4 linked regions of the Homo sapiens genome follow. The protein of the gene in region 2 interacts with the protein of the main gene of each other region in a pairwise test. Each region holds a gene or a part of one and is shown on either strand. Other genes may lie near its edges. The genes, in order: RHBDL2, SLC35B4, CREB3L1 and SLC18A1.

What was found.
Region 1: the proteins of SLC35B4 (region 2) and RHBDL2 interact in binary tests that used the Homo sapiens proteins (3 or more experiments, as listed by UniProt).
Region 3: the proteins of SLC35B4 (region 2) and CREB3L1 interact in binary tests that used the Homo sapiens proteins (3 or more experiments, as listed by UniProt).
Region 4: the proteins of SLC35B4 (region 2) and SLC18A1 interact in binary tests that used the Homo sapiens proteins (3 or more experiments, as listed by UniProt).

Annotation. Positions count from the first base shown.
Region 1 is NC_000001.11:38,931,810-38,938,835, reverse strand, and holds part of RHBDL2 (rhomboid-related protein 2), read left to right. Parts: intron 1-7,026. UniProt on the Homo sapiens protein: Involved in regulated intramembrane proteolysis and the subsequent release of functional polypeptides from their membrane anchors. Known substrate: EFNB3.
Region 2 is NC_000007.14:134,292,931-134,299,956, forward strand, and holds part of SLC35B4 (nucleotide sugar transporter SLC35B4), read right to left. Parts: intron 6,669-7,026; coding exon 6,593-6,668; intron 3,537-6,592; coding exon 3,461-3,536; coding exon of another isoform or gene 3,382-3,460; exon of another isoform or gene 2,150-3,381; coding exon 1,903-2,149; 3' UTR 1-1,902. UniProt on the Homo sapiens protein: Antiporter that transports nucleotide sugars across the endoplasmic reticulum (ER) membrane in exchange for another nucleotide sugar.
Region 3 is NC_000011.10:46,315,661-46,321,934, reverse strand, and holds the end of CREB3L1 (cyclic AMP-responsive element-binding protein 3-like protein 1), read right to left. Parts: exon of another isoform or gene 5,650-6,274; coding exon 5,550-5,649; intron 4,575-5,549; coding exon 4,448-4,574; intron 1,672-4,447; coding exon 1,407-1,671; intron 1,226-1,406; coding exon 1,189-1,225; coding exon of another isoform or gene 1,038-1,188; 3' UTR 526-1,037; downstream 1-525.
Region 4 is NC_000008.11:20,180,116-20,188,041, reverse strand, and holds the start of SLC18A1 (chromaffin granule amine transporter), read left to right. Parts: upstream 1-4,905; 5' UTR 4,906-4,979; intron 4,980-6,089; exon of another isoform or gene 6,090-6,293; intron 6,294-6,954; 5' UTR 6,955-7,077; coding exon 7,078-7,201; intron 7,202-7,926.

The sequences.
Region 1 (7,026 bases), on a different chromosome or scaffold from region 2:
GTTATAATACAAAGAAGACATTGATGCTCTAGATGCAAACAGAGGTTGCTGATGGAACTAAGAAGGGCATTTAATTCTACCATGCATCCTCGGTGCCTAACACAATGCTAAGCATGTGGTAGATGCTCAGTAAGGCTTTGCAGAGGAGTTGTAAAGGACAGAGTCTTTTAGTTTTGTTTTTCTTTAATTAAAAAATTTTCTTTTCTTTTCTTTAACTTAATCCCAAATGTGATAGTAAGGAACAGAGTCTTAAAGGGGGTGTTAATACTTCCCTGGGACAACAAATGGGGAGTGTGGGAGGATGTTCTAGCAGAGGGAGGAGCTCATGAAAAGACCTCATGGAGAGTGGGAGCTGGAACTGCTAGGGGCTCAGTGTGGCTGGGGCATAGGGTATATTTGGGGAAATGGAAAGAAATGAAGGTGGATAAATAGGCAGGGTTCAGGTCATGAGGTCTTTCTGTGCCTCGTTAAGGAATCTAGGCTTTAAACCAAAGACATTGGATACCCATTGAAAAGATTTTGGCTGGGCGCGGTGGCTCACGCCTCTAATCCCAGCACTTTGGGAGGCCGAGGCGGGCGGATCACAAGGTCAGGAGTTCGAGACCAGCCTGACCAATATGGTGAAACCCCACCTCTACTAAAAAAAAAAAATTAGCTGGGCATGGTGGCGTGCACCTGTAGTCCCAGCCACTCTGGAGGTTGAGGGAGGAGAATCGCTTGAACCCAGGAGGCAGAGGTTGTAGTGAGTCAAGATTGTGCCGCTGCACTCCAGCCTGGGCAACAGAGTGAGACACTGTCTCAAAAAAAAAAAAATTAGCAATGAGAATGACACTACCTGATTTGCATTTCAGAAGTGAGGCTGATGTGTAGGGGCCTAGGATATGAAGACGCCAAGGTTTTCAGGCCTGATGGGTCCCCACCTATCTATGAAAATTAGTCTTCCTTTTTAAGACTTCAGCATGGTTTGTTCATGAAGGATCTCTTGAGTTGGCCTGTTCCTGATGACTGGTACTTTGCCCTCAGCTGTATACTGGGTCACAGTGAATCTGTTCCTCCTAATAAAAGTTTGGAAATTTATAAATAGTTTCCTTTTGTATAATCTGGAATAAGTTCAAGGATACTACTTGCAATACCTTGTGCTTTCTTATGCCAGAGAGCTAGAGATGGAGGTGTAGAAGGGTTTCCAGGAATTATATCTAGCTCTGAGTGTGCCCAGTGAGGGTGTGTCAAACTAGCCAGTGGTCCTGGAACTGGGGATGCGGGGGCACAGATAACATTAAAAGAGTCCATTTCCAGATTCTCAGCTTCTGCAGGGACTCTTGCCTAAAAGTCATCTGCTTGTCTGGATTCTTTTAAGTTCTCCTTTTCAACTCTGTTTTCATTGTTTCTCTTCTTTGGCTTTATAAGAAAGTTACACCTCTGTCCATCCCAAATTCATTGAACAAGGTCCATTGTTCAAAAGGACAGTTAGAGAATGCTGTGTTCCTGAGAGATAGCAAGTAAAGAGAGATTAGGCAGGAGAAACTAAAGGGTGCTGTGCCTCTACTACAGACTCGTAGTATTTGTTTTATTTAAGAATACTCGGCCAGGGGCCAGGCGCGGTGGCTCACGCCTGTAATCCCAGCACTTTGAGAGGCCGAGGCGGGTGGATCACAAGGTCAGGAGATTGAGACATCCTGGCTAATATGGTGAAACCCTGTCTCTACTAAAAATACAAAAAATTAGCTGGGTGTGGTGGCGGGTGCCTGTAGTCTCAGCTACTTGGGAGGCTGAGGCAGGAGAATGGTGTGAACCCGGGAGGCGGAGCATGCAGTGAGCCGAGACTGTGCCACTGCACTCCAGCCTGGGTGACAGGGTGAGACTCTGTCTCAAAAAAAAAAAAAAGAACACTCGAGAATACTCGGCCAGGCATGGTGGCTCACACCTGTAATCCCAGCACTTTGGGAGGCCGAGTTGGGTGGATGACTTGAGGTCAGGAGTTCAAGACCAGCCTGGCCAACATGGTGAAACCTCGTCTCTACTAAAAATACAAAAATTGCTGGGCACGGTGGCTCACACTTGTAATCCCAGCACTTTGGGAGGCTGAGGTGGGTGGATCACCTGAGGTCAGGAGTTCCAGACCAGCCTGGCCAACATGGTGAAACCCCATCTCTACTAAAAATGCAAAAATTAGCTGGGGGTGGTGGCCAGCATCTGTAATCCCGGCTATTCGGGAGGCTGAGGCAGGAGAATTGCTTGAACCTAGGAGGCGGAGGTTGCAGTGAGCTGAGATCGCGCCATTGCACTCCAACTGGGTGACAAGAGCAAAACTCCATCTTGAAAAAAAAAAAAAAACCCAAAAAGCAAAAAACCAAAAATTAGATGGGTATGGTTGCATGTGCCTGCTGTAATCCCAGCTACTCAGGAGGCTGAGGCAGGAGAATTGCTTGAACCTGGGAGACAGAGGTTGGAGTGAGCCAAGGTCATGCCACTGCATTCCAGCCTGGGCAACAGAGTGAGACTCCATCTCAAAAAAACCCCCAAAAACCAACAAACAAAAAAGAATACTTGTTTATTCAACCTGAGGAAGCTGATTAAGTAAAGCCAGAAAATAAAACATAAAATAAAAATAAAGAAATAAAAATATTTGTTTAGGCTGGGCACAGTGGCTCATTCCTCCAATCCCAGCACTTAGGAAGGTCGAAGTGAGAGGATCACTTGAGCCCAGGAGTTTGAATCCAGCCTGGGTAATGTGACAAGACCTCGTCTCTACAAGATTTGCTGGGCGTGGTGGCATGTGCCTGTGGTCCTAGCTATTTGGGAGGCTGAGGTGGGAGGATATCTTGAGCCCAAGAGGTCGAGGCTTCAGTGAGTTGGGTTTGCATCACTGCACTCCAGCCTGGGCAACAAAGCAAGACCCTGTCTCAAAAAACACCCAAATAGGGCCGGGTGTGGTGGCTCATACCTGTCATCTCAATACTTCAGGGGGCCAAGGTGGGCAGATCGCTTGAGCTCAGGAGTTCGAGACCAGCATGGGCGACATGGCTAAACCCTGTCTCTACAAAAAAATACAAAAGTTAGCCAGGTGTGGTGGTACACACCTGTAGTCCCAGCTACTTGGGAGGCTAAGGTGGAAGGATAGCTTGAACCCGGGAGGCAGAGGTTGCAGTGAGCTGAGATCATGCCACTATACTCCAGCCTGGGTAACAGAGTGAGACCCTGTCTCAAAACAAAACAAAACGAAAAATTTGCTCAATGCTAATTATGTGCCAGACACTCTTCTAAGAATTTTACAGATAATAAACTAATTCAATACTGATACCGAATCTATAAAGTAGATATTTACCACCCTCCTTTTACAGATGATGCTCCCAAGGCACAAAGAGGTTTAATAAGTTGCCCAAGGTCACAGAGGTGTCAAGTGGTGAAATCAGAATTTGAATTCAGACACCTTTGAATTCCTCTAGAATTTGTGTTTTAGCCATTATGCTATATTAAACTTAAGAGCTTTAGCTCTTTATTTATGTGTTATAAAATTAGAATTGAGACATGAGCCAGTTGTCATGGGGATGCAAATTAATGCATTTATGGAACCTTTTAAAAATAAAGGTAGATTTTCTTATGGACAGAAAATCTCTTTGATTTGGCTAATTGGTTTGACAGTGAGGACAGGCTTTGCCAACTGGATTATGTGGTAGACATTTTCCATAAACTGAACAAGTGAAATCTGTAGCTCTAAGGTTTGGATGAAAATGTATTTAAAACATGTCTCTAACAAAGACTATGACAAAAAATTTGATCTTGGAGCCGATTTTAACTTGTAAAAAATAATTGTAGTTATTAACTTAAAAATGTATGAGACAGAACAGAGCTTCTTTAAAAAAATTTTTTTTTTTTTTGCGACTGAGCCTAGCTTTGTCACCCAGGCTGGAGTGCAGTGGCATGATCTCAGCTCACTGCAACTTCTGTCTCCTGGGTTCAAGTGATTCTCCTGCCTCAGTCTCTCAAATAGCTGGGATTACAGGTGCCTGCCACCACACCCAGCTAATTTTTTTGTATTTTTAGTAGAGACGGGGTTTGACTGTGTTGGCCAGGCTGGTCTCAAACTCTTGACCTCGTGATCTGCCCGCCTCGGCCCCCCAAAATGCTGGGATTATAAGTGTGAGCCACCGCGCCCAGCCATTTTTTTTTTTTTTTTGAGACAGTCTTGCTCTGTCACTCAGGCTGGAATGCAGTGGCGCGATCTCTGCATTGCTCACTGCAACCTCCACCTCCCGGGTTCAAGCGATTCTCCTACCTCCACCTCCGAGTAGCTGGGATTACAGGTGCCCATCACCCCTCCTGGCTAATTTTTTTGTATTTTTAGTAGAGACGGGGTTTCACTATGTTGGCCAGGCTGGTCTCGAACTCCTGACCTCACGATCTTCTGGCTTCGTCCTCCCAAAGTGCTGGGATTACAAGTGTGAGCCACCCTGCCGGGCCATTTTATTTTTATTTATTTATTTATTTTTGAGACAGTCTTGCTCTGTCATCCAGGCTGGAGTGCAGTGGCACAATCTCGACTCACTGCAACCTCTGCCTCTTAAGTTCAAGCGATTCTCTTGCCTCAGCCCCCTGAGTAGCTGGGATTACAGGCACCCGCCATAACGCCTGGCTAATTTTTTGCATTTTTCATAGAGATGGGGTTTTGCCATATTGGCAGGCTGGTCTTGAACTCCTGGCCTCAAATGATCCACCCACCTCAGTTTCCCAAAGTGCTGGGATTATATGCGTCAGCCACCACACCTGACATTCTTCAAAATTTTTATGGGGATTTATGAAGACTTGTGGACACAGCACGGTGGATAACTCCTGTAATCCCAGCTCTTTGGGAGGCCAAAGGGGGTGGATCATTTGAGGTCAGGATTTTGAGACCAGCCCAGCCTACAAGTGAAAGCCCATCTCTACTAAAAATACAAAAATTAGCTGGGCATAGTGGTGGGCACTTGTAATCCCAGCTACTTGGGAGGCTAAGGCAGGAGAATTGCTTGAACCTAGAAGGCAGATGTTGCAGTGAGCCAAGATTGTACCACTGCACTCCAGCCTGGGCAACAGAGCGAGACTCTGTCTCAAAAAAAAAAAAAAAAAAAATTGTGAAGACCTGTGAGGTATGACACTGATAAACATCGCCGGCCATGTGTTTGCTGGTGGGGATGAAGTTTCTGGTTAGGTGAGGGGAAGTAGCTTATCCGTAGGTAAGCAGGGGCAGAATTGGAGCAAGGACCAGGATTTTCTGACTCCTGCAATGTCAGAGCTCTTTCCATGATACTTCCCTTTTCCTTCCTTCTCCATTCATGGGATTGTTAATTCAGCAAATACTTGCTGAGAAATATTTTCCACTTTTGTGGAGGTCATATTCTAGCAGAAAGAGACAGACAATAAATAAACTAACTATTTTTAGATAATGATAAGTGCTGGGAGAATATAAGTGGGGAAATGTAGTAGAGCATATAGGGGTGCGGGAAGGCATGGGCAGGGGAGACTTCCTAGGGACGTGCTACAGGTTATGAAGGATCAAGACCAACCTTGTGTGTATGAGTTGTAGGGAAGGGAGAGGGCTAGGTAGAAGGAACAGCAAGTACAAAGACCTTGAGACAGGAGAAGATTTGGTGTATTCCAGGAACAGAAAGACGTCCCTGTGGCTGCAGCACTGAGTCGTTGGGAGAAAGTAGTAGAAAGTGAATTCCACAAAGAAGGTAGGAGCTAGGTCATATAGGATCTTATCATTTGCCATTAGGATCCTATATCTATCCCAAAGACAATGGGAAACCATTGAAGGATTTTTAAGCCGAGAGTTAATACACTCTGATTTACGGTTTTGTTTTGCTTCATTGTTGGAGGGAGGCAGGAGTGGAAACAGAGTGAAGACTAATTTGGGAGGGTAATTTCGGGTCAGACATCAGTAATCTACTCAATGGAAGAATACAAAGATGAACAATGTGAATGGAAAGAAAGGCAGAATGGTGTGAGATGTCATTCTGTCTTCTGGTTCTGATGAGGCATGCTGGTAGCTATTACTGTGTAACAGATCACCCCAAAATTTAGTGACTCAAAACAAGAATAGGTGTGGTGGCTCACGCCTGTAATTCCAGCACTTCAGGAGGCCAAGGTGGGTGGATCGCGTGAGCTCAGGAGTTCAAGACCAGCTTCGGCAACATGGCAAAACCCCATCTCTACAAAAAATGCGAAAATTAGTTGGGCATGGTGGCGCTCACCTGTAGTCCCAGCTACTTGGGAGGCTGAGGCACAAGAGTCCCTTGAACTGGGGAGGTGGAGCTTACAGTGAGCTGAGTTCGTACCACTGCACTCCAGCCTGGGCGACAGAGTCAGACCTTGTCTCAAAACAAACAAATAACAGAAAAACCAAGAGCCATTTTATTTCTTCATAATTATGCAAGTCAGGGATTTGGGCAGGGTTCAGCTGAGCAGTTCTTCTCCATGTAGTCATCAGCTAGGGTCATTCACAGCTGTATTCAACTGGTGGATGAGCTGGGCTGGTAGGTCAAGAAGGTTCCATTCATAGGTCTGGCACCTTGGTGCTTTTCTTTATTTCATTTTCACATGACTTTTTCTTTTTTTTTTTTTAAATCAGGCAACCTCCTGAGCCAGACCAGGCTCAGAGAGACTCCTACTTTTGTGCTCTTCTACATGGCCTCTCTTTCCATGTGGGCACCTTGGGCTTTCTCATAGAATGGTGGCCTCCAGGTAGTGTTAGGTTATATGGTGTTAGGCTTCAAAGAGGAAGCATTCCCAAAGGAGCAAAAGTGGGGACCACATAGCTGTTAAGGCCCGGCCCTGCAAAGTATCCAGCATAGCTTCTGCCACGTAGTATTGGTCAAAACCAGTCACAGGGCTGGCCCAGACTTAAGGAGAGGAGAAACAAACCCAAACCATATCTCTCAGTGAGAGGAATGGCAAATTATATGCTCCGTCTTTAGTCTACCATCCTTGGCTTCTGGGAACTGAATAGCCCTAACCATGCTGATGGTGCTGACCCACTTTTAAATC
Region 2 (7,026 bases):
ATTTTAAGTAACAAAAACCCGAGGCAGCTTAAATGACTTCTCCAAGCGACCTGGTGACTCTAGGACATTTATCTCCACTGCTGTTGCTCAAATCCATCAGAGAATAGCTCTGGACAGTGGAATAAACATACCACACCATGGAATGAGCCCAGGAGACCTGCAGAGCCACGTCTCAGTTTAAGAACACAATGTGTGCACCACACACACACACATACATACACACACACACACACAGTCTTTGTCTATAGGCAAACAGAGAAGTGGCCGGTGAGTTCAGCTGCTTACAGAGGAGCATGTACTGGTATGTAAGGTTCCAGCTAAGTAAAGAAAAGGGATGTGAAAGTGCAGCCACTTCCGTGCCCTTTGATCACACACAGACTACACAAGAGCACACAGAAGCTACGCATATTACAGCAACAGCGTTCCTCCTATTCAAGATTGTCCAGTGAAAGGAAAACTGGACCTCTGAAATGATTAGCAAAGAGAGGCATGTTTCCACACACAATAAAGCACATCCAACCATCCTCAATACCCATCGAGAATGCTAAGATACCTCATAGGACAATAACAACTTTCAATTGTCGTTGAGGTTTGACCTGATTTACACATCACACACTATATATCTCCATCTATGCATTCCCTTGATGGGTCGTGACTCTTAACAGAGTCATCGGGCAGAGGGGAATCTCCTGGTGGTGAAGCCTTATCCTCCCACTTGAGACCCACCCTTCTGCCCTGTGAGTGCCCGGCTGGGCCAACAGGGACAGCCATGGCTCTTGCGGTGCTGAGCAGGGCCATCCTGCCGTCACCACTGTGGCCTAGGCAATGGGCTTCAGGGGTGTCCAGTCCATAACAACCTTTCTTTTTTTTTTTTTTTTTTGAGATAGAGTCTCACTCTGTCACCCAGGCGGGAGTGCAGTAGCACGACCTCAGCTCACTGCAACCTTCATCTCCCGGGTTCAAGTGATTCTCCTGCCTCAGCCTCCCAAGTAGCTGGGATTACAGGCATGCGCCATCACACCCAGCTAATTTTCGTATTTTTAGTAGAGATGGGGTTTCACCATGTTGGCCAGATTGGTCTTGAACTCCTGACCTCAAGTGATACACCCACCTCAGCCTCCCAAAGGGCTGGGATTACAGGTGTGAGCCACCGTGCCCGGCACAACCTTTCTTTGTTATGAACACTGTGTCTGCTGTGAGATATGCTGCAGGGCCGCCCTAATCACAGAAAGCAATGGATAGAAGCATCTGACTTTTGCATAGAAAAAAAAAAAAGCAAAATGTGGGAAAGAGGAGTCCCACTAGTCTTGCTGCACTGTCACTGGGAATCAGCTCAGGGGAACATCTCTTTCCTTCCCAAAACGCTGGAGGAAGTCCAGCCCTGCTGTTACTGGTGTCTCGGTTTACTTGGCCACTCCTGGTGATAGTGGTGCCTGCAGCGTCTGACTGACTGTGAGGTGCTGCTGAAGAAGGAAAAGGTGATGGGAGACAAAAGGGATAAGGTCACAGGATGACAATGACTGCTGTAGCAGAGATGCATTACAACAGCAAGAGAAGGGACAATCTTTTCCAAGACCATGGATAGTAAGCCTTTTGTTCAGGAGACTCAGAATTCAGAAAACAAGAATAATACTGAATATGTCGGTAAACAAAACAGAAATAAATGAATGGGCTGTTCAATAGTCCAGAACTGTTCTTTTTTCTATTTTAGGGCTGAGGGGTTTCTATTTAGTCTACATGTGTCAGTCTGAGCAACGTGAGAAGTCCCCTCCTGAAGATTTCCTTTTGCACGGCTGGCTCAGCACTGCGGGTAGCTCGGCATTAACAAAAGCGAAACGGTGGTCAGACCTTCACAGGGTCCCACCCTCACGACGACACTGGTCTACGTACTCCAGACAGGCCTCAGTTCTTCTTGCTGTCCTTCTGAGGCTCACTTTTTGTGGTCCCTAGGTTGTTCCACACCTCTGTGTACATTAAGGTCCCAATGAAGACAAACAAGGTGCCCAGCCAGTGCCACAGGGTGAAGGGGTTCTGGAAGTACAAGATGGAAAAGATGAGGCTCACAAATTTGCGTAGGGTCACGACGAGCGTGACGGTGAGGGAGGCGCATTCTGTGGTGAGGATAAACACACCCCGGATGCACACGTACCTGGAGGAGTGGAGTCAAGGTAGTTTTCTGTAGACTGTACTTGGGGGATCAGTGAGAGAACCTTCTGGCATGGTCCCTGGTTTAACTTCTCATATTCTAAGAAAACATGAAGGTCCGCTACGGCAGCTCTGAGGCTCCTCCTGGGGAGAACCTGCAGAACAACTCCTGTCCTGCCATTCCATTTATGGGTACCAATTTGAAACCGCCAAAAAACCCCCAATTATTCTTATGTTGGAGTCTTCCTATGGTTACAATGACAGGCACCTCCAAGATAATGACAGAGGGTGACGCTCTCGGTAAGGGTGATCCCATTCACCTTTATTTATCTTGCCTCCAGCCCTTCTATCCCCTCCTCCAGAAAGGGACTCTGGCAAATCTAGGAGCTGACTTCAGAGGAATGAGGTCAATCTCGATTCGTTTCACTATTTCAAAGACATAATTATTTTTATAATGAAAGTAAGGTCATTCGAAATAACCATTTTAAAAAACGAAAACTTGATTACTTTGAAATTTCTTTTTTTTTTTGAGACAGGGTCTTGTTCTGTTACTCAAGCTAGAGTGCAGTGGAGTGATCAAGCTCACTGCAGCCTCGATCTCCTGGGCTTGAGCGATCCTCCCACCTCAGCCTCCTAAGTAGCTGGTAATTTGAAATTTCTTTCAGGACTTTGCAGCAGCTTGTGATCACTGGAAATATCTTAGGACACCAAAAAATCACAGGTACAAATCACAGATGATTTATGCTATACAGTAGTTCTTTGTTTGTTTTTTGAGATGGAGTCTCACTCTGTTGTCCAGGCTGGAGTGCAATGGCATGATCTCAGCTCACTGCAACCTCCACCTCTTGGGTTCAAGCGATTCTCCTGCCTCAGCCTATGGAGTAGCTGGGATTATAGGCACCCATCATCATGCCTGGCTTACTTTTGTATTTTTGTAGAGAGGGGGTTTCACCATGTTGGCCAGGCTGGTCTCAAACTCCTGACCTCAAGTGATCTGCCCGCCTCGGCCTCCTAAAGTGCTGGGATTACAGGCGTGAGCCACCACACCCGCCACTATCAATCAATGGACTCCTACACTTCCACTCAGAGCACTTCCTCCTGCTGCCCTGTGCCTTACTGACCTACTACACCACTAGCATCTCTTCTGCCCTCTACAAGGAGTTCCCTGAATTGGTCTCTGTCTCCAGCTTACCGCAGAATAAATCCAGCGAAAATCATATTCAAGTCAACACACTGTTAGAAGAAAAGAATGACCATTCCTGTGCCAAAAGAACCTGATGATGACATAAGGGTGACGGCACAGTCCAAAGGATACTGAGTGATGATGTTCATGAGGAGGTAGAACCACATGATGGGCAGGGTCACTCCGATGACGGGAATTTCATATAACTCTGTAGAGGTTACAAGAGGATATAGCCATATTGCTTTTTCACAGCTGAATTTTTCATCTTTTGAACAGGGTAATACAGACTGAACATAATAGGAACAGCAACATTGTCTTCCTTGCAAATAGAATTGGATCACGCATCACTTTACTTGCCTTGACTCCAGGCTATAGCAGCCACTAAAGTCATTAAATTGGTTTCTTAAAACAAATAATAGTTTTAATTTTTAAGGAAGTGTTTTACCATTTGCCTGAATAGTACCTCACTTTACAAAGAAAGACTGTGAAGCACAGAAAAGTTGAAAATGATAAAATGATATAGACAGCCTTAACAACTCAACACAAGAGGAAAGGCGGCTAGCAACTACTGTTTGGAAGTATGTTCAATCACACTAGTAATTACAGAATTCCAAAGTAAATAAGACTGTACCATTTTATAGCTACAAAATTAGCAATTCAAAACTTATTAATTTATTTTTGAGACAGAGTCTCACTCTGTCATCCAGGCTGGAGTGCAGTGGCATGATCTCAGCTTACTGCAACCTCTGCCTCCCAGGTTCAAGTGGTTCTTGTGCCTCAGCCTCCCAAGTAGCTGGGACTACAGGCACACACCACCACACCTGGCTCATTTTTGTATTTTTAGTAGAGACGGGGTTTCGCCATGTTGGCCAGGCTGGTCTTGAACTCCTGACTTCAAGTGATTCGCCTGCCTTGGCCTCCCAAAATGCTGGGACTACAGGCTTGAGCCACTGCGCCTAGCCAATTCAAAATGTATAAATAATATCTTAATCTGGCAAGTTGGTAATGGAACTGGCAGCCACAGGTTGGTGGCAGTATAACTTGGCGTCATTCTTTAAAAAAATCAATTTCATAATCCTTATTAAGGGTCTATAAAAGTATTCCTACCCATCCTTCAGAATTAATCCTAGTTTAATTCAAAGGAAGAAAAAGGTTCTGCACTCATTAAAGTACTATACATAATAAAGAATAACTCTGAATCAAAATCAAATGCCCAATGATGGTGCAATGGCTACATAAACAAAGGCACTTTCATTAGAGGAGGCATTGTACATTTGATAAAAACAAAAATCATAGAGATTTTATAGCCACATAAAAAAAACTCAGAAAAAAAGTAAAAAACAAATATAAAATTATATCCACACAAGGATTACAGCTATGTAAGAATCTCTGTAAACAGACATGGTCTAGAAGAAAATCAATAAAAATAAAATTGGCAGATGTCCAGGTTGATGGAACTGTGAATAACTTTAAATATATTCTTACATTAGTTTTAGGCCAGGAGTAGTGGCTCACGCCTGTAATCCTAGCACTTTGGGAGGCCAAGGCAGGAGGATCCCTTGGGCCCAGGAGCTCGAGACCAATCTACCATTCTGGGCAACAGGGAGGTCCTGTCTCTATTAAAAGACACATACACACACACACTCTCACTCTTATGTTAGCTTTATATAATGACACTTGCACAGTAAATTTGTGGGAGGAAATAAGATGAAAGAGAATACAGACATAGAAATCCTCAATGGCTCAGTTTTTTTGTATTACTAAATTTTTTTCAGGTTTTGAATTATACAGCATAATTTAAGAAATTCTGATACAATGATGCTGAGATCTGGTAAGAAATATTAATTTTCTTTCACGAATAAAATGTCTCATATATACATACACACGCATACACATAAAGACTAATTTTTGAAACTTAGTTCTGGATCAGTGGGCAATGCCAATAATCTGGTATTCTATTATCTTTGATATCCTTAGCAAGTATTGAAATGAAAAGGAAGTTAACAAACGTGATTACTTTTTAATAACTTCAGAGATACACTGAATCTCTGAAGGAAAGAGACAATGAATATCACTTAAAATATTTTGACAGATATTTAGCTCTCTTGGAAAATTCACGGATCTCAGAAACTTAATCTCAAGGAAAGCAAGAGAAGGAAAATGTATCTTTAACTTGGAAATGATTCTGGAGAAGTTGAAGGCAGATTCTGTAAAACATTTTATCATAAATACCTAGCCCTGTGATTTTTAGAAGCAGCATTCTAACAACTAAATCAATCACATGGAATTTGACAACATTTTTATTTCAATAGCCCTTTGCTACGTGGGACTTCTCAGAGATCTTAAAAACTGTTGTGTTAATATGAAGAAATGATTATTTGAGTAATTCAGAGCCTTACAAACTCTTACACACTACCTTCACATTTTTTGGGGGATGGGGCAAATGGGAGAGGCAACACTATAAATGCAGAGAATAGTCATAACTTCACAACTCATGCTCAGATAGCAAACAAATGTTTACTGAGCACCTACTGTCATTCTACAAAATGCACTTAAGCATTTGAGGTGTGTGCAACATAAAGCCTTGATTTTAAAAACGTTTATTTGTTCCTTGTGTGTTCAATGTGTCTATATTATACTCTGTTAGTAGATAATCAGATCATACAAGTGATCCCTTTCAAGTTAACTGACAATCTATAGCTAATTTATTAACTGGCCAGTTTAAAAAGTAACAGCTAACTTACACTAGACGCTTGAAACTAATTTTGCTTATTCATCTGCTGCCTGTCTCATCTGTAACTAGGAGAAAAACCTTGTCATCATTGAGCTCCCCTCTTGCTCTGCTCCATGGCAGCTTGGGCTGGATCTGTGAGCAGCTCTGCCTTTCATGGCAGAGAAGGATAAACAGCAGTTGAGAGAGCTGGACGGCTGCCCAACTTCGCAGGGCTCCAGTCTCTGCAGTGTGCTGTAAGTATTCATTTGCATTCTCAAAACATCAAACATTTCACATTCAAATGCAAACACACAAATTCCAAAGCAAAATGGAAAACTCGAAGATATTCTTTTACTTCATTTGTAAATAATTGAGAAACCCCTGTAAAAGCTTTTGCTGCTGCAATGACTGGAAAGTGGAATGGAGACATTTTCGAAAGGAACACATGATTTGAATAGGATTATGAAAAAGGCCGAGGTCAAGTCAAGAGTAAAACTGAGACTCTGCCTCAGAAACTGTCAGGTAATTCTACTGTCTAACCCCAAACTCACCAGACTTATTGAATAGAACTGCATGGTCATAAATATCAGAAGCCAAGAAGACGAAACCCGGAAGTGGAAGGGCGTGCTATGGAAAGAAACAGGTCAGATAAATGTAAGTGCAAAAACATTATAGAATAATTAGAGTAGCTTTACAATGATTAAAAGTCGTACAGGTTGTTTGACAGCAATACAAAGAAAAGCAAGTTAGACTTAAGTTAAATGTATACAGTGCTTCTTGACCACTTCACCTTGTATGGCAGGATATTAACCCCCAAATTATGGTTCTTGCCCTTATAGGGTCTGAGGGCCATCACAGACAAAGCAAACAATGGAGCCAGCATCCTTTCCTCAACAACAGGGAATGGAGAAATTTAAACATATAGTCTTTCTGCACAAAAGGATTTGCTAAATATGCAGACACAATTTAATTTGCTTTGATTGAT
Region 3 (6,274 bases), on a different chromosome or scaffold from region 2:
TTTGAAACCACAGTGAGTTATGATTGCACCACTGGACTCCAACTTGGGCAATAGAGCGAGATCTTGTCATTCATTCATGTACACATACATACATACATGGGGTTCTCCTTAAATAGGCAGATAAAAAACATTTATCTAAACTATCTTCCTAATCCTCAAATAAAAGCATACACATATAAAAGCTATAAATAAAGCCCAAAGACAGAAGAGGAAATAACAAATCAGTCAACAAAATATTGGAAAATAAAAAGTGAACAGGCTGGGCATGGTGGCTCACGCCTGTAATCCCAGCACTGTGGGAGGCCATGGTGGGCAGACTGAGCCCAGGAGTCTGAGACCAGCCTGGGCAACATAGCGAGACCCTACCTCTACAAAAAAAAAAAAATGCCTTCTCATACTCCTATACCCCCACACCCCCTGCCAGAACATAAAATCAACCTACCCTTGTTGTTCCCCTGCCCTTTGGTTCTACTTTCCCTCCCCTCCAATGAAGAAAGGCACAAAGTCAGGAGTTGATGCTGCATCTTTTTTTTTTTTTTTTTGGTTTTGCTTTCTTAAAGCATGTGCTGAGCTGATGAAGAGAGCAGTTTGGCAATTAAAAAGGCCCAGCGGCTTGGGCAGCAGCAGGGGGGTGCCAGGTGAGGGTCAGGTAGTCCCTCTTTCCTGGGCCAGGGAGCAGCAAAGCCCGCACTAACTTCATAAAATATAAAACAAGGGAGGGGCGAAGGGAAGAGGGAGATTTGTAAAATACAATATCTTAGGGGATTGGCAATAATAAAAAATAAGGTTCATTATTTACAAACAATTTCTGTTCTTGGTCTCTGTACAGTGGGGGTGGGGTAAGGGGTGTCTGTGAGTGGGGTGCGTTGATGTGTCTGTTTGGGTGCAGGTGTGGGGGCAGGGAGGCAGTGGTCGTGTTGGGCATATGAGAGAGGAGGTGGGGTACCCAGTGAGTGGTTTGTCTGAGAAGGACGGATGGATGTTGGTGGGAAGGAGAATGAGAACAGAGTGGTCGGCCCAAGGGAAGAGTCCAAATGTCAGGGGCAAGGAAGGGCTGGGAAGTGGAGCCTTTTCTCCTGGAATGGGAAGCTCCAGGAGGCAGGGGCACGAGGCGGATCCGGGTTAGTGAGCAAGAACTCCTCTTCTGGGTACCAGGGGTCCGTCCTATGTCCTGGGTCTTGGCATGGCCTAGGAGAGTTTGATGGTGGTGTTGGGGCCCAGATCCCTGGAGAGAGAAGAGAGGCCAGCGATGACTGTCCAGCAGGAACCCTCTTACCCTCTGCAAGCTGGATCTAGACCAAGTAGGGATGGGGCCTTGGGAGGGTGTGGCCAATGTGGGGACCAAGGGTGGGCAGGAGGCAGGTGGAGCCTGAGACCTCAGGAGGGAAAGGGGCCACACACCCCACCTGTCGTGGAACCACTCCTTGGAGTGGGAGAAGTCGGGGCTGGTGCCGTTTCCACCGTCTTTAGGCCAGGCCTCACTCAGGTACTTGGTGGTCTCGTGGGTGCTGTCCAGGTGATCATGCTGCAGGTGGTCCCGGGGCCGCTGCTCTGCCGGCCCCCCGGGGTTGATTTCCCAGCCATCTGGGGGCTCCATGGGCAGCAGGGTGCTGCGGCCATCTTCCCATAAGCCTGCCCCGTCATCGTAGAATAGGAGGCTTCGGGAGGGCACTGGAGAGGGAGTGTAGGATGAGCGGTGTGCCCAAGATTCCCTCAACATCCTGGCCACATTCATGGCCTAGTGGTTAAGGACGCAGGCCCTGGATCTGAGTCCCAGCTCTGACACTTCCCGGATGTGTGACCTCAGGTAAGCCACACACTTTGCTTTAAACTTTCTGAGCCTCAGTGTGCTCTTCTGTAAAATAGGGATACTAGGACCAACCTCATGTAAATGAGAGGTTTAAATGAGGTAATACAGGGGAAGTGATTGAAACTGTGTTCAGGAAATACTCAGAAAAGTCACCTCTTCCTAGCAGAGGGTACTGAGTTTGGGCATCTGGGAGCTGTGTTCTAACCTCCACCACTTACTTGCTCTATCTCCCTTTTTTTTTTTTTTGAGACAGAGTCTTGCTCTGTCGCCCAGGCTGGAGTGCAATGGCAGGATCTTGACTCCCTGCAATCTCCGCCTCCCGAGCTCAAGCGACTCTCCTGCCTCAGCCTCCCGAGTAGCTGGGACTACAGGTGTGTGCCACCATACCTGGCTACTTTTTGTATTTTTAGTAGAGACGGGGTTTCACCATGTTGGCCAGGCTGATCTTGAACTCCTGGGCCTCAAGTGATCCTCCCACCTTGGCCTCCCAAAGTGCTGAGATTACCGGAGTGAGTTACCGCACCCGGCCAGTCCACCACTTACTTTCTGTGAGACCTGGAATAAGTCTCTTCCCCATTCTAGATCCTAATTTGCCCTTCAGAGAAGGAAAACAAACATTTGTTGGACACCCATCATTTGTTAGGCATTATCCAAGGCCCATAGACCTAAGTAGAGTGGTTAAAATCTTAGAGAAACTCTAGGGAATGAGGTTTCTTTAGCCCCGCTTCCCAGAGGAGGCAGCTGAAGTTCCAGGCACTCAGGGAAATTGTCCTCCCTGAAGGGAGGATGCGAACCCAGGTCTGCCTGGCCCTGGGATCTGCTGCCCCTCCGGCTCTGCAGCCATGACCTCATAGTCTGTGTGAACAGAGGTCCCTGGAACTGCGCAGTGCGCCAGCTCTGCAAACCAGCCTGCTCCAAAGCCATCTGCCTGCTGGGATGTGTCTTCCTCTCCACCCAGCCCAGGTCCTGGGCCTAAAACCCACTGCCTTCCCTCCAAGGGGCTCATTCATTGCCTCCTCTCACTGTGGCTTTATCCATCAACCCCAGCTCTCTTTCCACTCCTTTTTCTCCAGTGGCTTCTGTGGCCTTGGAAAAGCAGACACATGGCTCTCCAGACCTTGCATTGCTGCTGCCCACCCGCCTTTAGTGACCACCCCGTTCTCTCCTCCTCAGCCTGCACGTGTCCGGGGAGGAGCTTTCACTCTCCCTGTCTCTACTTCCTCTTTCCCTAACCCTCCCCACACCAGCTTCCTCCCCTCAAGGCCCTCAACGTCTAGCTCATCCTCCCTGCTATATCCCTCCTTCTTGAAACTCACTCCTTAATCTTCCCTCCTCTGACCTCCCATCTGTTTCCTCTTCCTCCTCCTGTCCTGCCAGACACGTGGTTCTTGGTAAGTGACTGACTGGTAAGTGATGAGGGACAGCCAGGAAGTTCCTCTGTGGGTCCACCTGAAGGATTCTCTGCGTCTGAAATCCACACTCTTCTTTGCTGGGCCCTACCCTGGTTCTCCCTTTGCCAGCTACTGTGATGTAGCTATTCTCTCCTCCGTGAGCTCTAAGAGACTGAGTGTGCTCATTTCATAAGCACAGACACTGTGCTATTTCATGCACTGTCTCACAGCCATGGCTCAGTAAGTGCAAAATTGCCACTCCCATTTTCTAGATGAAGAAATGAAAGCTTAAGACACATGCCCCTGGTCACACAGCAGGTGGCAGTGCCAGTTACGATGGACTTGACATCCCCATGCTCCTAACCACTGTACGTTTACTATCCCCCTTGGAAACAGTAGATATCTGAACCCACACCACCGCTACCCTTCTTCTGTCCATGGTAGACATTATCAGTGGATCATGACACTCCTTCCTGTCAATTCTGAATGGTGCCTCAGGATCCTTCTTTTTTTTTTGAGATGGAGTCTCACTCTGTCACCCAGGCTGGACTGCAGTGGCGTGATCTTGGTTCACTGCAACTTCTGCCTCCCAGTTTCAAGTGATTCTCCTGTCTCACCCCTCTCAAGTAGCCGGGACTACAGGCACATGCCACCATGCCCAGATAAGTTTTGTATTTTTAGTAGAGACGAGGTTTCACCATGCTGGCCAGGCTGGCGTCGAACTCCTGACCTCAGGTGATCCACCGCCTCGGCCTCCCAAAGTGCTGGGATTACAGGCATGAGCCACCGCGCCCGGCCCAGGGTCCTTCTTAACTCAGTGTTTCAGGCAGCTACCACCACCTTATTGGAAATGGCTTTTGAGCTGAAACTCACTTGCTGTCCCTATCATGAGATACTGATGGTGCCTAGCAGATGCCCCATAAGCACTGGCACCATAATGCATGGGGCCCAGGGCTGGAACATTCCTGTTATCCCCTAAACCCACCTCCTGCAAGCCACTCCTGAGCTCTCTGGGAGCTAGGCTGGGCATCGGGAGCTCTGTATTTTAGTCCCAATTCTACCACAAACACTGAGCAAAGCATAGACTCTCTTTGGGCCTCGGTTTCCCCATCTGGAAAATGAGGCAAAATGAGATAATGCTGACCCCACACTTGGCTTCTCTCTTATGTCTGGCTTCTGCCTGGACACTGGGGCTGGGGCAGGGCAGCCTCAGCCCAGGGAGCTGGCATGACAGGCGGGCACTCACTCTGGCTGGCCGTGTAGACGCCGTCTGCGGCCAGGGGGTCTTCCTTCACAGTCTGGGAGCCGGAGGAGAACTCGGGAAGGCAGGGCACGAGGGAGCCCAGCACCAGAACAAAGCACAAGGCTGCCACCTGGTAGCAAAGAGAGAGTGGCATCAGATCTGGGGTAAGGAGGGGCCACGGCCCTGACCACCCCACTCCTCCTCTCCCAAACCAACAGGCACAAAAGTCTTAGCGTTTTCCCAAGGAAGCAGCTGCTCCAGTCGACCACTCCCTCCTACATGTGGGGTCTCCTATCCTCTCTGGGGAAGGCAGGGACAGCCCAGGCCATCCCAGCCCATTGTAGGGGGGTCGCCACAGGCAGTGCTAGAAGTAAGAGGGAAGTGGCCAATGTGGAGTCCCCTTACGGGGTAGAGGAATCAGGAAAGGAAGGAATAGGTGCAGGTGGGGCTTGGGGCTGGGACGAGGGAGGGGGACACACCGCCACATCACGTTCTCAGCAGGATTCTGAGGAGCCTGGCTAGCGGGAGGTGCTGAGAGCCACGGAGCCCACACTACCCCTGCCCATAGCCTGGTTCTGCTGCCTGACAGCTCGAGGGTCTCGGAGGGCCGGGGCATGCTGAGCCAGGCGGCAAGAGACTGGCCATTTCCAGAAGAAGATAGAAGAGGGACTGGAAGAGGTCTGAAACACGCCCTGGGAGCCTTCCGGGTTTCCAGGGGTTTCCTCAGCCTTTTCACTGCCATCTGTTCCAGAAAGAACCATGTCCGTTCTTCCCTGAGTCTCCCCAAGCCCTTCCCTGCACAAGGCCTGTGGAAGCCGCCTCCTCAAGGAACCTGCCCAGCTGTCCCCTAGCTGGGGCCACTGGAGTCACCTACACATCTACACTGTGTTAACCAGTCGGGGACCGGTGTGAGGCAGAAGGCACCATGGGCTTGGAGAAGGAGTCTGGAGTCTGCTAGAACCAGCCCACCAGGCGCCAGGATGGTGTACCCTGGGACGCTGCCCACGATGTTACCGATCCTTAAAGCTCTGCCCAACCCTGGAAAAAGCCAGCCTTGGGAAGAACTCTCCTCCTGTGGGTCTGTGGTGGAGGGAGCCACACCTACCATGAGGCAGGTCCCAGTCTGGGTGGCGGCCATCTTGTAAGGTCTGGAGATCTTGTTGGTGACCAGAGTCTGGAGTTTCTGCAGCTGCTGGAGCAGGGTCCTGAGGAGGGCACAGCAGTCAGCTGGCAGGCTTTGACCCCGCAGGCATCTCTGCCTCCTGGAGCTCTCCTAGGGGGCTGGCTCCAGACTTGGCCTCCACGCCAGGTGCCCGTTTCAGTCAAGATAGGAAAGGTCACCTCCTGCGTGGCTCCTCTGCAGAGTGGCCTGGCGCCTGGGGCCTGCCTCATGGTGACTGGCTGGGTCACCTTGTGGAAGCTCAGGCCTGCCCTGTGATGCTCCTGGCCAAGGGGGTTGGAGGAGGGAAGGCCTGCCCCCAGCTGCACAGATGCCAGCCTTCTTTTGCTTAACCGACACCTGCCACAGTTTCACTGACCTTCCCTCCCTGGCACCCCCAGCACCCTGAGCTGATAAGAAGGAGCTGTTTGGCACAGTGCCTGGTATGTAGTGAGTGTCTAGTAAATGGTAGCTATTGTTTTTGTTAGGTTTTTTGTTTTGTTTTGTTTTGAGACAGAGTCTCGCTCTTTCACCCAGGCTGGAGTGCAGTGGTGCGTTTGCGACTCACTGCAACCTCCGCCTCCGAGGTTCAAGTGATTCTCCTGCCTTAGCCTCCTGACTAGCTGAGACTACAGGCGTGCGCCACCATGCCGGCTAATTTTTGTATTTTT
Region 4 (7,926 bases), on a different chromosome or scaffold from region 2:
ATGTGCATCCTCTTGTATACTTTAAGTCATCTCTGGATTACTCTTAATACCTGATACAAGGTAAATGCTATAGAAGTAGTTATCGTACTTTATTTGTTTTTTACTTGTGTTATTTTTTATGGTTGCATTGGTTTTTTTTTGTTTGTTTGTTGGTTGGTTGATTGGATTTTTGTTGTTGTTGTTGTTTTGAGACATGGGTCTCACTCTGTCACCCAGGAGTGCAGTGGCGCGATCATGGCTCACTGTAGCCTCGACCTCCTGGGCTCAAGCAGTCCTCCTGCTTTGGCCTCCCAAAGCACTGGGATTATAGATGTCAGCCACCACACCCAGCCTGTATTGTTATTTTTTATTGTTTTATTTTCCAAATATTTTTGATGTTGTGAAGGGATGCCAGTTTTGGTGGTTGGTTGGGGGTAGGGCCTGAATTTTCCTAACTGAATTTTCCTATCACTTATTTGTTGCTGAGTTTGCTACCGCTGTCCCTACAATAGAACTGTTCAATGGGGTTCCAGCTGATGTTGATTTTACTTTTTTAGAGCCTCCTATTCCCTTGGATCTGAAACCAGCACTTCCCTTGCATGTTTACAGACACGCAGTTCCCTATCTTTATGGACACATATCCACTCCTACAGGGTCCACAGTGCCCTGTAGATCATGGCCGTAAAGTATCAGCCCTGATTCCTCTTTGGCTTTGTTTTCAGAAGCCTGTGACTTCTGAACCAAAGTCAGCCTCCAATCTGAGGCTGGGATAATGACATATGCTGAATGGAAGAAGTTGGAACTGATTGTTAAAATGTTTGAACAGCACAGGAAACAGGAAGCAATGAGAAACAAAAGCACCCTCCAGCTCTGAGTCACAGGGCCGTCTCCTCTGCCAGGCCATGTCAGCCACAGCCCAGGGTACATGTAATTGGGTAATAGATATTATTTGGCCCGGAGAAAAAGCTGTCCGTCTGAGGATGTTGTATGCCAACCACTTTAACTAGAAAGATAACAGAGCCACTATCAAAGAGCCTCAAACTTCAATTTCAGTCTCAGAGAGTTCTCAACAGGATGCTCTGGCTAGAAATTATTAGTTCTTTGCAAGGGCTCGGAGTCCACTAGTATAGACTGAGCTGTTACTTTTTACTGGCAATGCTTCATTTTTAAGTTTTGTTCACTATTATTTAAATAATAAATCAAGAATCTTCCACAACTTTGCCATTGGGCCTAACCACTTACATAATCACAATGTACATAAAGTGTTGTTTTTATGTTTTTAATTGTGGCAAAATATACATGACATAAAATTTACCATTTTAACCATTTTTAAGTGTATGGTTCAGTCGTGTTAACTATACCCACCTTATTGTGCAACTGACCAATCTCCAGAAGTTTTCATCTTGCAAAACTGAAACTCTACACCTATTAAACAATCACTTCCCATTTCCCTCTTCCCTCAGACCCTGGAAACCACCATCATATTTTCTATTTCTATGAAATTGACTGTTATACTTACATCATATAAATGGAATTACATAGTATTTGTCCTGTGGTGACTGGCTTATTTCACTTAGCATAATGTCCTCAAGATTCATCCGTGTTATAGCATGGGTCATAATTTCCTTTATTCATCCATTGAGGGACATGTAGGTTGCTTTCACCTTTTAGCTATTGTGCATAATGCTACCGTGAATTTACATAAAGGTTTTTTTGTTGGTTTTTTTTTGAGACAGAGTCTCACTCTATCGCATAGGCTGGAGTGCAGTGGAGCGATCTTGGCTTACTGCAACGTCTGCCTCCGTGTTCAAGTGATTCTTGTGCCTCAGCCCCTCAAGTAGTTGGGACTACAGGTGTGCAGCACCACGCCTGGCTAACTTTTGTATTTTTAGTAGAGACAAGATTTTGTCATGTTGGCCAGGCGGGTCTTGAACTCCTGACCTCAAGTAATCCACCTGCCTCAGCCTCCCAAAGTGGTGGGATTACAGGCATGAGCCACCACGCCCAGCCCCAATTTACAAAAAGTTTTATATTCTACCTTTTTACTTTCTGTCATAATATCTGTGTGTATATACATATAATATAAATTAAATATATTATGTATAACATATTATAGAATATAAATTACATGTTGTATATGTAATCTATAAATATAAATTACATGTTATATACGTAATCTATAAATATAAATTACAGGTTATATATGTAATCTATAAATATAAATTATATATTTATTTTTATATATACAGTTTTTTCCAGTTTGATATATAGTCTTCATCATAACCTTTTTTTACATCTGTTTTAAGGGCCACATGACAGTCCTTCAAGCTCATGCACTTAAATAATTTCTACAGTTGGACATTTGAGATGTTTGTAGTTTTTCTCTAAATCCTATGACAAAAATTTTGTACCTATGATTTCCCTCCCTTCCCCCATATTTTAGCATACCTTTTTAGATAGATTCCAAGGAAGTGAAATTACTGGGTCAAAAGCAACATACATTTTATAACTTAAAAGATAAAAGATAGAAAGCCGCATTGCTTTCTAAAAGAATGGTATTTCCCTAGCTACTAACAGTGTATGTGAATTTCCATTCCACAGTACTCACAGTTTTTTTTTTTATTCTATGATTAAAGGGAGGAAGTTGAGTGCTCATTCATTTTTAATGGACAACAATTTGATTATTAATAGTGATGGGCATTTGTGAGGAGACCCCAGACTTGGCCAGCCTGTGAATACTAGCATGGTTACAGTAAACTGAAAAAATATATCTATTTGATCTAATATGTATTATCCCTATAATATATGAGTATGTATTAGAAACATGCCCAAATAGTACGTAATCCATAAATGATAGCTACTGTTATTGTTGCTGTTATTCTTATTATTGCCCAACATGTGATGATTCTTAGTCTATACCTGCTTTCCCAGGCCCTCAATTTCCCAAAATCATGATTTCCCAATTTTTGGGGGGCATCCCCAGTTAGGTGCTGTCTCGGAACATTCCTGTGAGGCTGCTCTACCCAAGCCCTCTCCCTCTAGCGCCCTCTATTGGACACAGGTACACTATGCCGGAGGCTGTCAACCCTCAGAGTTCTAACACTGTACTTAGGGTGGAGGGCATGGTGGCAGAATTGTCACCTGGACTCCAAAAAGGATACTGCCTTATGCCCAGAGTCTTGCAAATATCTTTATTAATACAGTTCCTCCATCTTTTGGCCCTAACCCCCTCATTCCCTAGAGGCTCAGGCCACAGGCCCTGCATGTAAGTGGGGGGCAGTGTGCCATGCTCCCTGTAGGGAGTGGACAGTGGCACCCCAGAGATGTCCACCTCCTAATCCTGGAACCTGTGAGTATGTTGCCTTGGTAGTCCCCTATGGTAAAAGGGACTTTGCAGATATGATTAAGGATCTTGAGATGGGGAGGTGATCTTGGAATATCTGGGTGGGCCCAGGGTCATCCCGTGAGTCCTTACAAGTGAAAGAGGGAGGCAGAAGGCTCAGAGTCAGAGGGAGAGTTGAATATGCATTGCTGCTAGCTTTGAGGGTAAAAGTGGCTAGGAGCCAAGAAATGCAGGAGATCTCTGGAAGCTGGAAAAGGCAAGGAAACAACCATCCCCCAGAATCTCCAGAAGGAATGCAGCCCTGCCGACACATTCATTTTAACCCGGTGTGATGTATTTTGGACTTCTGACCTCCAGAACTGCAAGATACTAAATACGTGTTGTTTTAAGCCACCAGATTGTAGTAATTTGTTACAGCAGCAAACTATAGCGATGAATACATTCTGCTGATGTCTTTGTTTCCTATCCCTATTTCTCGCTCTAGGTTTACATTTTAAAACTGTTTCCATCTAGGCCGCGCGCTGTGGCTCGCGTCTGTAATTCCAGCACTTTGAGAGGCCAAGGCAGGAGGATCACTTGAGGTCAGGACTTCGAGACCAGCCTGGCCAACATGGTGAAACCCTGTCTCTACTGAAAATACAAAAATTAGCTGAGCATGGTGGCATGCACCTGTAATCCCAGCTACTCAGGAGGTTGAGATTAGAGGATTGCTTGAACCCAGGTGGTGGAGGTTGCAGTGAGCCAAGATCATGCCACTGCACTCTAGCCTGGGTGACATAGCGAGACTCTGTCTCAAAAATAAAAAAAATAAAATTAAAAAACTATTTTCTTTTTTTTTAGCGTTAAATCGAAAGTTCCCTAGTTAATTCCCACAATTAGGAGGGGCCCACCAGTTCCACAAATAGGAAATCTCTGCACTGCTCTTGCTCGTAAAGTGTATTTGCTTTTTCATAAATTGCTTATGTTCTTTGAGCCACCAATGGTTTAATGTCAGAATAATATAGATCATTAGAGCCTCTCAAGATCCCACAAGGAACTGCACTTTCTCCTGTAGTTAACCATCCAGTCATCCATGCAAGAAATATTTATTGGATGCTACCATGTATCAGGCACTGAGCCAGTATTGAGATGTGAAGACACAGTGCATAATCTAAGCCTTTACAGAGGCCACAGATGTTGGGTTTTTATGGCTTGAGAACAACATACATTGTTTCTTTCCAGGAAGCTAATTGGGGTACATGGAGCCACTTTGACTAAGTAGCAAGGAACAGGAACTGCACACTGGTTCCATCTTGGCTTCCAATTTGTATTCAGACCCAGGCAAGAGTTAAAGAGTTCGATGATAGATAAGCACAGATGCAAAACAGTACAGTCCAGTGCCTCTTTGCTTAGGCTAATATCTGCCCTCTCTTTATCCTCTCCAGCCCTGCCTTCCTGCCTTTGACGCAGGGAGCTAAGGGTCTGAATGAACCCTGTTGGAGGTTGCAATTAAATCTTTGTGGACAAAGGCACACACACACACACATACACAGAATCCTCAGATAACAGGAGGCAATAAATCCAACAGCACATCCACGTTCAGAGAACAGTGTCCCTGCTGTCTTGCTAACAGCTGCCAATACCTCACTGAGTGCCTCACACCAACATGGGCTCCAAGGTAAGATTTTTCTCTCTCCGGACAAATTTAATCTTTCCTTGTGATTTGTGTCTCTGTCAGAGGATTTTGACTGTTAAGTAAAGTTTACTATTGATTTGTTGGCAAATTCCTGGTTTTGTTTGTTTTTGTTTTGGGATTTGGGTGTGTGTGTTTCTCTCTCTTTGTAGTACTTACTTCACTCACTATGTTTTTTAATTTTCCATGGCTTGTCTTTTATTCTTATCCATACATATCCTAAGTCAATTTGTATTCAGAAATACCTCCTTTATATAGAGAAATGAAGGATCTTAAGTAATTGCATGCATTTACTGGTTAAAACTTAACTGAGAATTTGGTTCACTTAGGACCTTGGTCACGTTAATATGTAGTAGTGAGAGGGTTCTTCCAGCCCTGGGCTTAGAACAGAGTACCTCAGTGTTTGGGGTACTCCCAACACCTGAGGCTGACTATTGAATTTCAGTGATAATCATTTAAAATTATTTACTTCTTTAATTACAAAAGTAGCTCATTATTGAATATTTAGAAATACACAGAAGATAACTGAAGTCATTGATTATAAATAACTGGCATTTGAGTATCTCTCTACTCTCTCAAAAATGTGCCCATATATTTATATTTAGACAATTGAGATAAAGTTGAAAACACAGTTTAATTTCCCTTTTTTACTTAACGTTATAGTAATAGTATTTTCTGTATCATTAAAATTATTTGAAAATATAATTTTTAAGAGCCGCTTAATAATCCACCATTAACATGTTTGACTTTTTTCACTAAGAAAAATAATTCTGCAATTGATCATTTTGAGTATAAGTCTTTGGCTGCATCTCTGACCTTTTTTCTTTTGTAGGATGGGTTCCTTGTAGTAGAGTTACTAAGTCAAAGAGTATACAATTTTTAGGGCCTGATAGATTTCATGATGGTAATCTATTTTAAAATTTAAATGAGTGATATTGTTGATACCACAACAGAAGCCACGTCAAAGAAAATGAAATTCTCCCCAGAAACTCTTATTACTTGAAGTTTGACAAGGTACTGTGACTTAATGCTGACTAATGATATGAAATCCTGAATAGAGAACTAATCATGAAAGTCAATATTTTATTTTCACAGATGAAGGCATCTTTCTGATCAGGGGTTTGTAGCTCAAACAAAAGAATGAGCGTGCTTCTAGAACCACAGAGCAAGGGAACATGGTAGAGGATAAGCTGGCAAGTTGAAAAGCGTGGGATTTCATCCCAGTTTGACACTAACTGTGCAACCCCAAACAAATCTCCTAACCTTCAGAGGCTCGGATTTCTTGTCTATGAGATGAAGGTTGGTCTACATCAGTGTTTCTCAGTGGGCAGCCCAAGTGACACTGTGCCACATGAAATATTTTGGGGTAGCACCTAGAACAAAGGTCATACTTTTTTTGCATGCCACATAAAATAACTTTTTGAAACATGATATCAATATCTATGTTGGTTTTAAAAATTTTTTGAGAGTTAGGGGTCTTGCTATGTAGTCCAGGCTGGACTCAAACTCCTGGGCTCAAGATATCCTCCCACCTCAGCCTCCCAAGTAACTGAGACTCCAGGCACATCCCACCATACCTGGCAGTATCTCAATATTTTAAAAGAGTGGATCTAGAGGAAAAAGATGAAGTAAATGATAGTACAGGTAGTCCTTAGATATGACATAAACCATCAAGGTGATAGGCAAATAAATGTCGGATGTTTGAAAAACACAGGGTTAAGTGATCTGTAGAGCATCTATTTTTATCTGGATTTATACCTAGCCATTAAATTCAAGGGAAATTAATGGCTAGATATAAATCCAGACATAAATAGCTAGTAAGCGATGCTTACCAGGAAGGCATTCTGGGAACCAGGTAGAGTTATTGAGATTTATAAGAAGTGAACAGTGATACAGACATGGAGATGTTTCCAAATATCATCCTACTACTTGCAACCCTTTGCACTTTTCGTTTTAATAGTGAGTTTCCTTCGTCTGGGCAGACTCCCTCCCCTCTTCCATAAAGGCTGCAGGAGACCTGTAGCTGTCACAGGACCTTCCCTAAGAGCCCGCAGGGGAAGACTGCCCCAGTCCGGCCATCACCATGCTCCGGACCATTCTGGATGCTCCCCAGCGGTTGCTGAAGGAGGGGAGAGCGTCCCGGCAGCTGGTGCTGGTGGTGGTATTCGTCGCTTTGCTCCTGGACAACATGCTGTTTACTGTGGTGGGTACGTTTGTGGGTCTTTGTGCTGAGGGTTAATTTGCTGTGGGCCCCAGCAGGCAGTGTACACCCTGCTTGAGTTCAACAGTGAATCCATCTGAGAATTTTCCTTTTTATGCTCAAAAACACACAGAGGTTGTTGGGGACTGGAAAAAAGCCCTGCAGAAAATGGAGTCTGACACTTGTCAAACACAGCTAAAAGACTCAGGAGGTTCAAAGAGCAGGAGGTCCAGAGAGGGTCTGACTGGAGAAGAGGATGGCCCGGAGCCAGAACTGGCTGTGCTTTTCTTTCTCCCCACACTGTCTTCTCAAGGTGCTAATGACTCCAAGTGCCTCTGAGGCAGCGAGATCTTCTCACAGGGGTGCCTTTCTGGACTCTGCTCTATAAAAACAGCATATTTTATTTGGATATCTGATTTAGTATCAAGACCTTGCCTTCCTTGTGGTTCTTTCCCTCAGAATCCTGCTTTTTTTAGTTGATACTCTCCTAATCATTACATTAAGTTACACCCTTGTATAAATGGGCACTAAAAGGTTTCTCCTCTTGGGTAAAACATATGTTTTTAAAAAAGGATCTTTCTGAGACAAGTTGTTAATCCAATACAATCACTTCTCATTATTCATAGTTCTGTAGTTATAGTTATGCTCTATAAAGTCGCTGCAAACACTGAATTAGTGAATACTGAATCATTGCTCCCAGGGAAACACACACACACACACACACACACACAC